3 linked regions of the Homo sapiens genome follow. The protein of the gene in region 1 purifies or fractionates together with the protein of each later gene. This does not show direct contact. Each region holds a gene or a part of one and is shown in the gene's direction. Other genes may lie near its edges.

Region 1 (3,751 bases):
TAGTGGAATAAAAGTAGATGTATAAAAACCCAAAACTTCCAGATAGATTATCCTGTTACAATCAGAATAATTAAAGAGCTAAGGACTTTGGTAATATGAAGGATGAAGTTATCCATTGGCTATGATTTGATAGGCAGAAGTAAGTTCTATCTCAAAGAAAGTATTTTTCTCGTCATCACTAATATTAGTTATACTTGTTAAAATAGAAAGTTGGCTGGGCGCGGTGGCTCACGCCTGTAATCCCAGCACTTTGGAAGGCTGAGGCGGGTGGATCACCTGAGGTCAGGAGTTCGAGACCAGCCTGACCAACATGGATAAACCCCATCTCTACTAAAATTACAAAAAATTAGCTGGGCCTGGTGGCGCATGCCTGTAATCCCAGCTACTCCGGAGGCTGAGGCAGGAGAATCGCTTGAACCCGGGAGACGGAGGTTGCAGTGAGCCGAGATCGCGCCATTGCACTACAGCCTGGGCAACAAGAGCGAAACTCCGTCTCAAAAAAAAAAAAAAAAAAGAAGTAGTTATCTCATTATTGCCCTATTAGAATGCATTGAGACTGGGCGCCGAGGCTCATGCCTGTAATCCCAGGACTTTGGGAGGCCAAGGTGGGCAGATCACGAGGTCAGGAGTTTGAGATCAGCCTGACCCACAGGTGAAACCCTGTCTCTACTAAAAATACAAAAATTAACCGGGCATGGTGGTGCGCACTTGTAATCCCAGCTACTCAGGAGGCTGAGGCAGGAGAATCGTATGAAACCGGGAGGCGGAGGTTGCAGTGAGCCGAAATCGCACCACCGCACTCCAGCCTAGGCAACAGAGTGAGACTCCTCCATCTCAAAAAAAAAAAAAAAAAAAAGAATGCATTGGAAGTTATATCTAATATTTATTTTAAAACAGTTCAACCACATAGTGTATTTAAGAAGTAAAATTTGAGTCATATATACTTCACACGTTAACGGCAAAATCACATATTATAGCAGTCTTTTAAATTGCAATTCAATTCCTTTTTCTCCAGTACTGAGTTTCTAGCTTACAGGTTGTTTCCATTGCTGTTTTGGTTTTTACTTGTCTTTTAGCTAGAGATCCAAATTGTGCTTATGCTTTAAATATCATTTTTTAAGAACAAAACTAATTATTTTTAAGTTTTCTAAACGGGGAAGTACTGTGACAGTCCATTTCAGTAGCTTATATTCCTCACATAGGTTAACAAGAATGAAAACAATGGTTTTAATTAGAAGAACTAAGCCCTAAGGTTTACATTTTTATTAAGAGAATTGTAAAATGATGTATACATATATGACAGTTAAAGAAGCATAAACTTTATTCTGGCATTTTAAAATCAGATGCCGTAGACCTGAACTGGCTGCATAATATGGTGGACTAATAAGAGAAAATGAAAGTATTTAGCTGGCTCTTAATAAAGCAGTTTGTAATTTGAATCATATAAGAGATGCCTATTGTGCTTCCTGTTTTATGTGTCAGCACTCATAGCAAGGAACTTACAGTCTGGAAAATTATTTGAGCGAAAAATTGTTTATGGTCCCACCTTTAATTTAGCATTTCTCACTCCTATGCTTTATCTTATTATCCTTTTTCAATTTTTGTAACTGGTAACTAAAATTAGTTAATACAAATAATTAGAATGTTTTTCTTAAGGAATCACTTTAGGTATCTTGAGTTGTAGGCCTTTTAGTCCATTTTATCTCAGTTTGAAATGTTTTGATTATTTGAGAAGAATACTTCAGTAGTAACTATAAATATTCATAGCAATTTAGACTTACATAGACTCAAATAAGTTGCATAAAATGTATTAGTATAGGTCTAGAAGTTTTGCAAATTAATATGTAGTCTTAGTGCTCCATGGTTCATTTATATGCTCTTTAAATTATAAAAACTATAGGATATTTACCATTTTTGGTAGTTACAAAAATATTTTCTAGGTAAATGTTTACAAAGTGCCTGTTTTGAAGGAATGAAGTTTCTTCTATGTTTTAGGTAAAATTTTATATTGATTTATCTTAATTAAGGAATCTAGGATTTACTGATAATATTACTGAAGAAAAACATATTTGGAAAATCAAAGCGTTTCTTACATCTGATCGTATAAGGGAAGTTTAGTTGATAATTTACTGTCAGAAAGCTAGACTCTGACACAGAGAAGAAAATTTGGTAGAGTTATTGCCAAAATTTTGGCAGTGTTTTACCTTTATATCTTAAAGGTATTAATTCAATTTGTGGTAGAAATTAAACTTCTCAGTATTAATTATGTTAAAACCTCTGATGTTTCTATGCTGAAACACACTAAGGACTATTGTAACATAAAACTATACTAAGGACTATTGTAACATAAAACTATTAAGTGTGCTCTGGTATAGTTTGAAACAGTTTAAAACTGTGTAGTAGGTGACAATATGAAAGATAGCATTTTTCTGTATGGTTGAAACTCCCCCACCCCAAGCCCCACACTTATGTGCTTTAATATAAAGCATTTCAGAAAGGCTTTGGAAAACTAAGGAAAAGGTATTTGCTCTTATTTTGTACTACCAGGTGGCCTGTGATACCCTAACCCACAGAATTAACATTTCCAAACAGGTGGCCATTATGAAAAACTACACGCAGTGTCCTGTTTTCATAAATATTTAATCAGTTCAAGTTATTAACTATATTAGGGCTTTCAGTAGATTTAAGATGAAATTCATTCTTCCTCAAAGGCCTTTTCTTGTATAACTCTGCAAACCAGAAAACTGGATGTTAAAAATGTTCAGTAGTTTTAGGGAGTGATATATTCATCTGCTCAGTGCTTATCTCTAAAGTTGGAAGGAAACTAATTGGTTTTTAGATTGATGGCATTAATAGATGTGGTAATTTGAGGATGAAAGTTGTAAAATTATAACTTGGAAGATTTGGTTACTTTAAAGATAACGATATTAGATAATTTGCATTAGAGCTGTTTGAGAAAGTTTGTATAGGGGTGCTTTTTACATAGCAAGCCCTGTAATTCATTTTTACCAAGATTTTTTTTAATCTCTGTTTTTGTGAATATAAAAGCGCAGGGCCGGGCGCGGTGGCTCACGCCTGCAATCCCAGCACTTTGGGAGGCTGAGGTGGGCAGATCACCTGAGGTCAGGAGTTCAAGACCAGCCTGGCCAACATGGAGAAACCCTGTCTCTACAAAAATTAGCCAGGCATGATGGTGGGTGCCGTCCCAGTTACTTGGGAGGCCAAGGCGGGAGAATCACTTGAACCTGGGAGGCAGAGGTTGCAGTGAGCCAAGATCACACCATTGCACTCCAGTCTGGGCGACAGAGGGAGACTCTGTCTCTGAAAAAAAAAAAAAAAAAAAAAAAAAAAACACAATAAAGGCTAATAGAATTTTTTTGTATGTTGGCATAATTGAGAATACTTTCTGTTATATATTTTTTCTCTTTGAATGTGACTACATTTTTAAACATCTAATTTCTGTGGAACTAATATATTTGGGTTGGTAAACATTCCTGTGAAATAAAGTATTAGTTGTTTGATTGCCCTAAATACCTAGATTTCTTGTTCACCAGAGAGCTTTTGTCAGACTTATGTTAAGTCTTGAATTGGAAGATAAAGAAATTCTGGGAAGTTTAGTGTGTTCAAATTAGTATCGTTTTGCTACTAAATCTTTTACTTTACTAAACTTATGGAACTTTTTTTTTTTTTTTTGAGATTAAGTTTCGCTCTTTTTGTCCAGGCTGGAGTGCGATGACGTGATCTCGGCTCA
Region 2 (3,751 bases), on another chromosome or scaffold:
GCTGAGAGTTTGAATTGGAGTTACACTAATAAACAGAAAATTACCATATGGTTTCACTTGAACCTGTGCCAGGTTAGCCCTCAGTTCTCTTGGCCAGTTCTTTTCTATAGATTTTTCAGGGTGAGAAATGAGCAGAGATTCACAACTTGAGGATATTGTTAGGATTACCTCATGGTAATCCTAGGATTGTAATACCAGGATGTAGAGGATGTGGTTAGGCATTTTGAAAGTGTCCTGGGGAAGGAAGAATCAGAACCTGTGAAGGGAATGAAAACCAGGCTGCACTCTAATTCAGAAGATACTGGTTAGTCCCATGTGGGCTAGCAGTGCACACTAGACATCTGCACAGAAATTCGCACGCAGATGTTTGCAGCAGGATGAAAGACACATGCTGCAGTGTGGATGAACCTCGATTTCATCTACAGGAAATGCTCCGCATAGATAAATGCATAAAGGCAGAAAGTAGATTAGTGGTTGCCTGAGGCCGGGAAGGAGTAAGTAGGGACGGGACTGCTAATAAGGTTGGATTTCTTTTTTGGGTGATGAAAATGTTCTGGAATTAAATGGTAGTGATAGTTGCATATCTCTGAATATACTAAAAACCACCGAATACTTTGAGTTTTATGGTATGTGAAGTGTCTTGAACAAATAATTTGTATGCAGAGGGGAAAGGGATCAGCTATTTGTGACACCCAGGTGAAAATCTGTCTCGTGACAGGGAAGGCTAGTTGATGGGCTACCACATAGGTAGAAGTGGCAAATATTAGTGCAGAGTCATAGATAAGCCAGAGGCTGGAAGCAAGAACCTCAGTGCATACAGCGGTGGGACGACTCAGGGAATCACTGGCGCAGGTAAAGCTCTCCTGGAGAAGAAAGATGGATGAGGGTGAGAGGCCTGTGTGTGCTGTGCTGGGGTGACCTCCACCAGGCGGGTTGAGGGGGCCTGGTCTGGAGCAGCAGCTCAAGCTCAGGGCCCTACTCACTGAGTTGGATGGGAGCCCAGGCCAGAGCACCTTTGCAGCGTAGCATTATGGCAGCATGACAGATGTATCTTGAAGGGAAATCTGTGGCTTCATGAGAAGGCTCATCTGTTGAAAGGCAACATTAGTTAGAGAAGGATTGCATTTCCTGGACATAACATACTCATTTCCCAAATAAATTGTCAGTGTGCTCACCTGAGCAGTGGTCACCCTGGACCATGGCGATGGCTCTTGTTGACTCTTGTGCTGGAGCAGGAGGAGGAGCACACTGCTCCAGGGAGCCTGTTATCCATGGCTCTTGGTCTCCCGGCCATTTCGGAGGCTTGACTTCAAAGCCTTCAGTGCTTTGGGAGAGTAAGTCACCGTGGCGATCTCTTGCTGCTGTTGCTATGCAATTAAAGATGGAATGTTCATCAGATGAAACGCCTGGGAAGTGGTGGCAGGTTTTATTTACTTTTTAAATGAACTTTGTTTGCTTTCTTTCCTTCCTTTCTTCCTTTTTCTTTCTTTTTGATGGAGTCTCGCTCTGTCGCCCAGGCTGGAGTGCAGTGGTGCGGTCTTGGCTTGCTGCAACCTCCATTTCCTGGGTTCTAGTGATTCTCCTGTCAGCCTTCCAAGTAGCAGCGATTACAGGCATGTGCCACCATGCCAGGCTAATTTTTTTTTTTTTTTAGTAGAGATGGGGTTTTGCCATGTTGGCCAGGATGGTCTCGAACTCCTGACCTCACGTGATCCACCCGCCTTGGCCTCCCAAAGTGCTGGGATTTCAGGCGTGAGCCACTGCGCCTGCCCTTGTTACGATTTTTAAAAGCTTACCTGGTTGTAGTTTAAGCCTCAGATGGTGGTTACCCCAGATATTGCAAGTGTCAGCTCTTTTGGCTGTTTCCAGAGACCAGCCTGTATTTCTGTGTCCCTGTCTGTGTTGGTAGGGCATGGAGTTGAGTGTGGGCTGGGTATCCAGTTGTGGGTTGGGAAGCTTTGGGGGAAGGAAGATAGGTTCTTTGAATACATACATTAGCTTCATTGTTACTAAAACCACCCAGATTCAGAGAGTAGTGGACACCCAGGATGTTGATTGGCTGGTTTGTAACGTGTTTTTTCATGAGAAACATCCTTTGGGCTACTAGGGATTGGGCACATTTGTGCTGCTTGCCACCTGATGTCTTGAGTCACCTTTTTTGATCAGACAGTTCTCAGTCCATGGGTTAGTGAAACAAATAGGCTCTCAAGAATCTTAGTGTGGGGGTTGTTAACTTTCCCGTGTTGGTTTTCAGCCGCCTTTGTTGTATACACACATATCCCAAACGCCGGAACAAGGCTCTGTTTCCAAGTGTGCCGATGTTGAATTTTGCATTGGGCCCTGAGGTCACTGGTGGGTGGGGGTGGGTAGGCTGAAGTGGATAGCTGCAACTCACTAAACACTCTTTTCCTTTGAGGGTCAAGGTTTGCTAAATAGGGGAAAACTAAGCTTCTTTCTCTTTTCTTTCCAGATGGCCTTGGTGGTATTGGCATGGGGTTAGGACCAGGAGGGCAACCCATTGATGCCAATCACCTGAATAAAGGCATCGGAATGGGAAACATAGGTCCCGCAGGTGAGAATGACAGTGCACCTTGCTTGGTGGTTTGGGGAAGTGAAAATTATTAATTATTGGGACAACTGGACTTTGAGTAGTTTAAATGGAATAAATATTTAACTGGGACAAAATTCCCTCCTTATTCATCTCTGCCTCATTTTGAATAAAGGCAGTATTTTGTATTTTTATCAAGTTGAGTCATTTTTTAAAAAGTCATTATGCTTTTTCATTGTAACCTGACAACAACCTTCTAAGCTGAAATAGTTGTGCCATTTGATAAGAGGAGGCAAGCCAGAGAGTTGATCTTGCTCAAGGTCACACTGTCAGTTACTGACAGGCTGCAGGTCTCCTGACCACGGGACCATAGCACTGCCGCAGTGCCCTGAAAAGTGTCTTACCAAGACCCCTTTGGGCCCTCCTGGTGTTTGCACAGCTGCTGCTAGAGAGCTAGGGGCATTGATAGATGCAAAAAAGGTGGAGAGGCCAGGCACGGTGGCTCACGCCTGTAATCCCAGCACTTTGGGAGGCCGAGGTGGGCGGATCACAAGGTCAGGAGTTTGAGACCATCCTGGCCAACATGGTGAAACCCCATCTCTACTAAAAATAAAACAATTAGCCGGGCGTGGTGGCGCACGCCTGTAATCCCAGTTACTCAAGAGGCTGAGGCAGGAGAATTGCTTGAACCCGGGAGGCGGAGGTTGCAGTGAGCTGAGATCACATGACTGCACTTCAGCCTGGCAACAGAGCGAGAGTCCGTCTCCAGAAAAAAAAAAAAAAAAAAAACCTGCATGAAAGCTTTGATGTGTAGAATAAACTCAGGCTTTGCTGTTTAGCATTTTCATTGCTGTGTAATGATGTATTTTGATTCTATTAAGGAATATGTCATTTTTATGACCTTAGACTTTGGTCTTTGTTGGAATCCTTTGAAATTGGAATATGGAAGCCCCTCTATCCCACCATTGTCAGTGTTGCATATCCCTAGACTCTCTTCCAGAGTCACCCTGGGGCTGACTTAAATTCTGGGCCACAACTTCAAATGGCTGTTAACGTTTCCCCCGACCCAAAACACACACACCCCATGTCTGACATCTAAACAGAAAGACTGGGGGTTGGGGAGGAAGTCTTGGTGTTTTTAGGAACTGGTTTTTATTTTGAAGATTTTACCTTTAACAGGGATTGATTTATTGAGACGGAATT
Region 3 (3,751 bases), on another chromosome or scaffold:
TGAGCCCAGGAGTTCAAAACTAGCCTGGGCAACATGGTAAGACGCTGTCTCTACAAAATATAAAAATAAAATTAGCCAATGTGGTGGTGCACACCTGTGGTCTCAGCTACTCCAGAGGCTGAGGTGGGAGGATTGCTTGCGACTGGGTGGTTGAAGCTGTAATCATCCGGGATTATGCCAATGCACTACAGCCTGGGCAACAGAACAAGACCTCATCTCAAAAGAAAGAGAGAGAAAAAAAGGACAGTCTATCTGCTTGTCCTGGAAAAATAAAAATTTCCCCTGATAAATAAAAGTTAATGGTTAATATTTTATTAATTTATTAATAGGTAGTAAACAAGGAAAATATATTGAAGAGTAAGAATTAAACTCTGCCATCAAAAAATCTTACCATCCAGGAAGGGAGAGGAGTGTAAAACTACCCACAGTGCTACGAGATAATTTTAAATAAATTGCAATGTGGCAATTGAGTCGAGGCTTTAAGCACTCGTAGGATATTCTCCCTCTGATTACTTGCTCAAAGTAGATGATTTGGAAAATATAGAAAAGTACAATAAGATTTTAAGGCTGGGCGCGGTGGGTCACGCCTGTAATCCCAGCACTTAGGAAGGCTGAGGCGGGCGGATCACGAGGTCAAGAGATGGAGACCATCCTGGCCAACATGGTGAAACCCCGTCTCTACTAAAAATACAAAAATTAGCTGGGCGTGGTGGCACGCACCTGTAGTTCCAGCTACTCGGGAGGCTGAGGCAGGAGAATCGCTTGAACCTAGGAGGCGGAGGTTGCAGTGAGCCAAGATGGCGCCACTACACTCCAGGCTGGTGACAAAGCGAGACTCCGTTTGAAAAAAAAAAAGTTAAAAAAAAAAATCACATGTAATTTTCCCACCAGGAGAGAACCACTACTAACACTTTAGTGTATACTTTCTCCCATATTTTTCGTCTTTGCTTTTTAAAATAGTTTAAAGTGGTCTGGCGTGGTGGCTCACGCCTATAATCTTATCACTTTGGGAGGCAGAGGCGGGCGGATCACCTGAACAGTCTGGCCAACATGGCGAAACCCCATCTGTACTAAAAATACAAAAATTAGCTGGACATGGTGGCGCGCACCTGTAGTTCCAGCTACTCAGGAGGCTGAGGCAGGAAAATCGCTTGAACCCGGGAGGCGGAGGTTGCAGTGAGCCAAGATCGCGCCACTGCACTCCAGCCTGGGCGACAGTGACTCTGCCTCAAAAAAAAAAAAAAAAAAAAAAAAAAAAGAAAAGAAAAAAGAAACCGCTGGCTTAGTAGAGCTGATGCTACCCCACTGCGTGCGCAGTTCCTATAATGTAACCAGAGAGACTGGCAGGTGACGGGGGTAGGTAGGAGACAAGCCATTTCAAGAGGAGGGAAATTAAGGGACCAGATTTGGAAGGATGGGCCAATTTTGCTGGCACTTAAGATATTAGATGCCCTGGGGCCAGAGGCCAGGATTCTGCACTTCCTTTTTATATTGGAGAGGAATAAGGAAGTCAGTTGGTTTCGATGGAACATGTGTTGTCTGAAGAAGGGTTTAATAGGCCAAGAAGCAGATGTCTACGAGGTAGCTGACATTCGAATCTGGAACTGAGAAAGGGTCTGGGGTTGGAAAAACTGCAGGACTGGTTAGTTTTCTACACACTTTAACAAGGCCTAGTCACTGCTGCTCCCTCCTCATTTTAAGAAAAGTCCTTTCTTTATTCACATTGCACAACGGAGGCTTCATTTCGCGCTTTTTTTTCCCTAGGCCCGGGGCTGGGGCAGGTCTTTTGCGCCCGTCACCTAACTACGCCCCTCAACCCTTTCCCCGCCCCCGCGCAGCCGGAAATCCGAGGTCTGGGCGGATCTTCTACTAGGCACTCTAAGGGGCAGCGATAGGACGCCGCGGCCGCCAATCAGGCCTCCCAGATACCCGGATGTGAGACGGTGCGCGATACAAAGGCGAGTTTCCACCCAGAGGGTCGTCCCGTGCAATAGCCAATAAGCATTCTCCAGGCAATAAATGACAGGAAAACTAACCAGTTATAAACTAGTTTCTCTCACGCATGTGGAAATTCGCCTGCTTAGTCTAACCCACTGCTAATTGTGATTGGATATCATTGTGAGGAGCGGTTGAACTGTCTAATTAGGAGCGGGAGCGAAAAAACGCACAGCCAATAGGAAGATTCTCAGGAATGGGGCGGGGACTAGGCCTTCGCCTCGGCGGCAGAGGAGACTCGGGGGCCATTTTGTGAAGAGACGAAGACTGAGCGGTTGTGGCCGCGTTGCCGACCTCCAGCAGCAGTCGGCTTCTCTACGCAGAACCCGGGAGTAGGAGACTCAGAATCGAATCTCTTCTCCCTCCCCTTCTTGGTAAGTGGAGAGGGCGGACGCAGGGAAGGCGCTGGGTTTTTCGGGAAGCGAGAGGGGGTGTGGGAGAGAAGATGTGGGAATCCTTCCCCCTAACTAACCGGGCCCTCATTTATTCTGCTTGTTTTGGGGGATTAGGTTGAAGCCGGGGGCAGTTTTATAGGCCTCAGCCTCTGTATAGGTTTAACCTGGTGTCCTCTAGGCCACGATCGCCAGGGAAAATGTCCTTTTTTCGCTCTTCCTGTGTTAACGGCTGCTTTCCTTTCATTTTCTACGACCGCGAGGACTACGGGATCATGAAAATGAAGATCGTGATGCTCATTAATATAGTCGAAGTTAACGTAGCGCCGATGCCTTCTATTACCTCCGTTCTTCTTACATGTAAAAAGTGGGGGAGGGGAAGGGGGAAGGTTACCAAGTAGATGTATCGCGAGCCTTTAAATCCTGGATCGTGCCGCGTGGCCTACGAGAAAGGTTTAACAAAAGATTCAGCATTTTACTGATAACTTTTTATTTTATTTCTCTCTATGAGCAAATGATGGAGCTCGAAGTAGTTATTTTCACTTACATTTGTAAAAGGAAATATTGTGATATAACTATATTAATATTTACAGCTGACTTTTCATCTGCAGGTTACAAAACACTTGAAATATATAAGTTAGTGGAACTTTGCTTGAGGTAGGTATTAACTCTCTTTCTCAGACGGAAACTGAGGCAGAAAAGTGTTGGTTGCTAGGGTCATATTAAGTCAGTAGCAGCACTAGTAAGGAATTTGACCACGAGGTCAGTCGAGTGGTTTTTACCTAGTTAATGGAATACCTAGTTAATATAGTTCTAAAACTACTGTATTGCAATCTTTGCCAAGAACCTGATGACGGAAACCACGAGGTAACTGGAAATTCCCAAATTGCGCTTAAGAAAAATACTACGAGACTTGAGAATTTTTTAACGTAACTTCCTAAGTGTAAGATGACAAAATTTGACTTTCGGGATATTCTGGCGTTAATTTTCCCGTCCGCCTAAATGTGGGCAAAAATTCACAGCTACGTTATATTAAGCAAATATTAACAGTGCCTATTATTTGCTGGGTGCTGAAATTTGATAAAAAACTTAAAAGTTAAAAAAAATTGTTTAGATCTTTAGTGTCACATTGACTTATCTGGGACATCGCTTTTTTTAATCCTCACATGAGATTTGGCTAAGTTTATTTTTCACAATCTGTTAATCTCACAAAAACTAAAGCTGTTAAGCACAGTTTAAACCCATTCTGCAGGGTAAGAAATTCATCTGTAAGGCAATCTATTTGATAGGAAGTAAAATAAGGGTCAAAAACATCGCGACCCCTTTCTTAAGGCTTAAACATGTATATTATTACAGGAACTTAA

What was found.
Region 2: the proteins of RC3H2 (region 1) and HNRNPM purify together in Homo sapiens (affinity purification with mass spectrometry, with the first as the bait; 2 studies listed by BioGRID). This does not show direct contact.
Region 3: the proteins of RC3H2 (region 1) and HNRNPC purify together in Homo sapiens (affinity purification with mass spectrometry, with the first as the bait; 2 studies listed by BioGRID). This does not show direct contact.

The regions. Positions count from the first base shown.
Region 1 is NC_000009.12:122,898,692-122,902,442, reverse strand, and holds part of RC3H2 (roquin-2), read left to right. Parts: intron 1-3,751. UniProt on the Homo sapiens protein: Post-transcriptional repressor of mRNAs containing a conserved stem loop motif, called constitutive decay element (CDE), which is often located in the 3'-UTR, as in HMGXB3, ICOS, IER3, NFKBID, NFKBIZ, PPP1R10, TNF and in many more mRNAs.
Region 2 is NC_000019.10:8,468,856-8,472,606, forward strand, and holds part of HNRNPM (heterogeneous nuclear ribonucleoprotein M), read left to right. Parts: intron 1-2,470; coding exon 2,471-2,572; intron 2,573-3,751. UniProt on the Homo sapiens protein: Pre-mRNA binding protein in vivo, binds avidly to poly(G) and poly(U) RNA homopolymers in vitro. Involved in splicing.
Region 3 is NC_000014.9:21,267,916-21,271,666, reverse strand, and holds the start of HNRNPC (heterogeneous nuclear ribonucleoproteins C1/C2), read left to right. Parts: upstream 1-2,224; 5' UTR 2,225-2,369; intron 2,370-2,998; exon of another isoform or gene 2,999-3,751. UniProt on the Homo sapiens protein: Binds pre-mRNA and nucleates the assembly of 40S hnRNP particles. Interacts with poly-U tracts in the 3'-UTR or 5'-UTR of mRNA and modulates the stability and the level of translation of bound mRNA molecules. Single HNRNPC tetramers bind 230-240 nucleotides.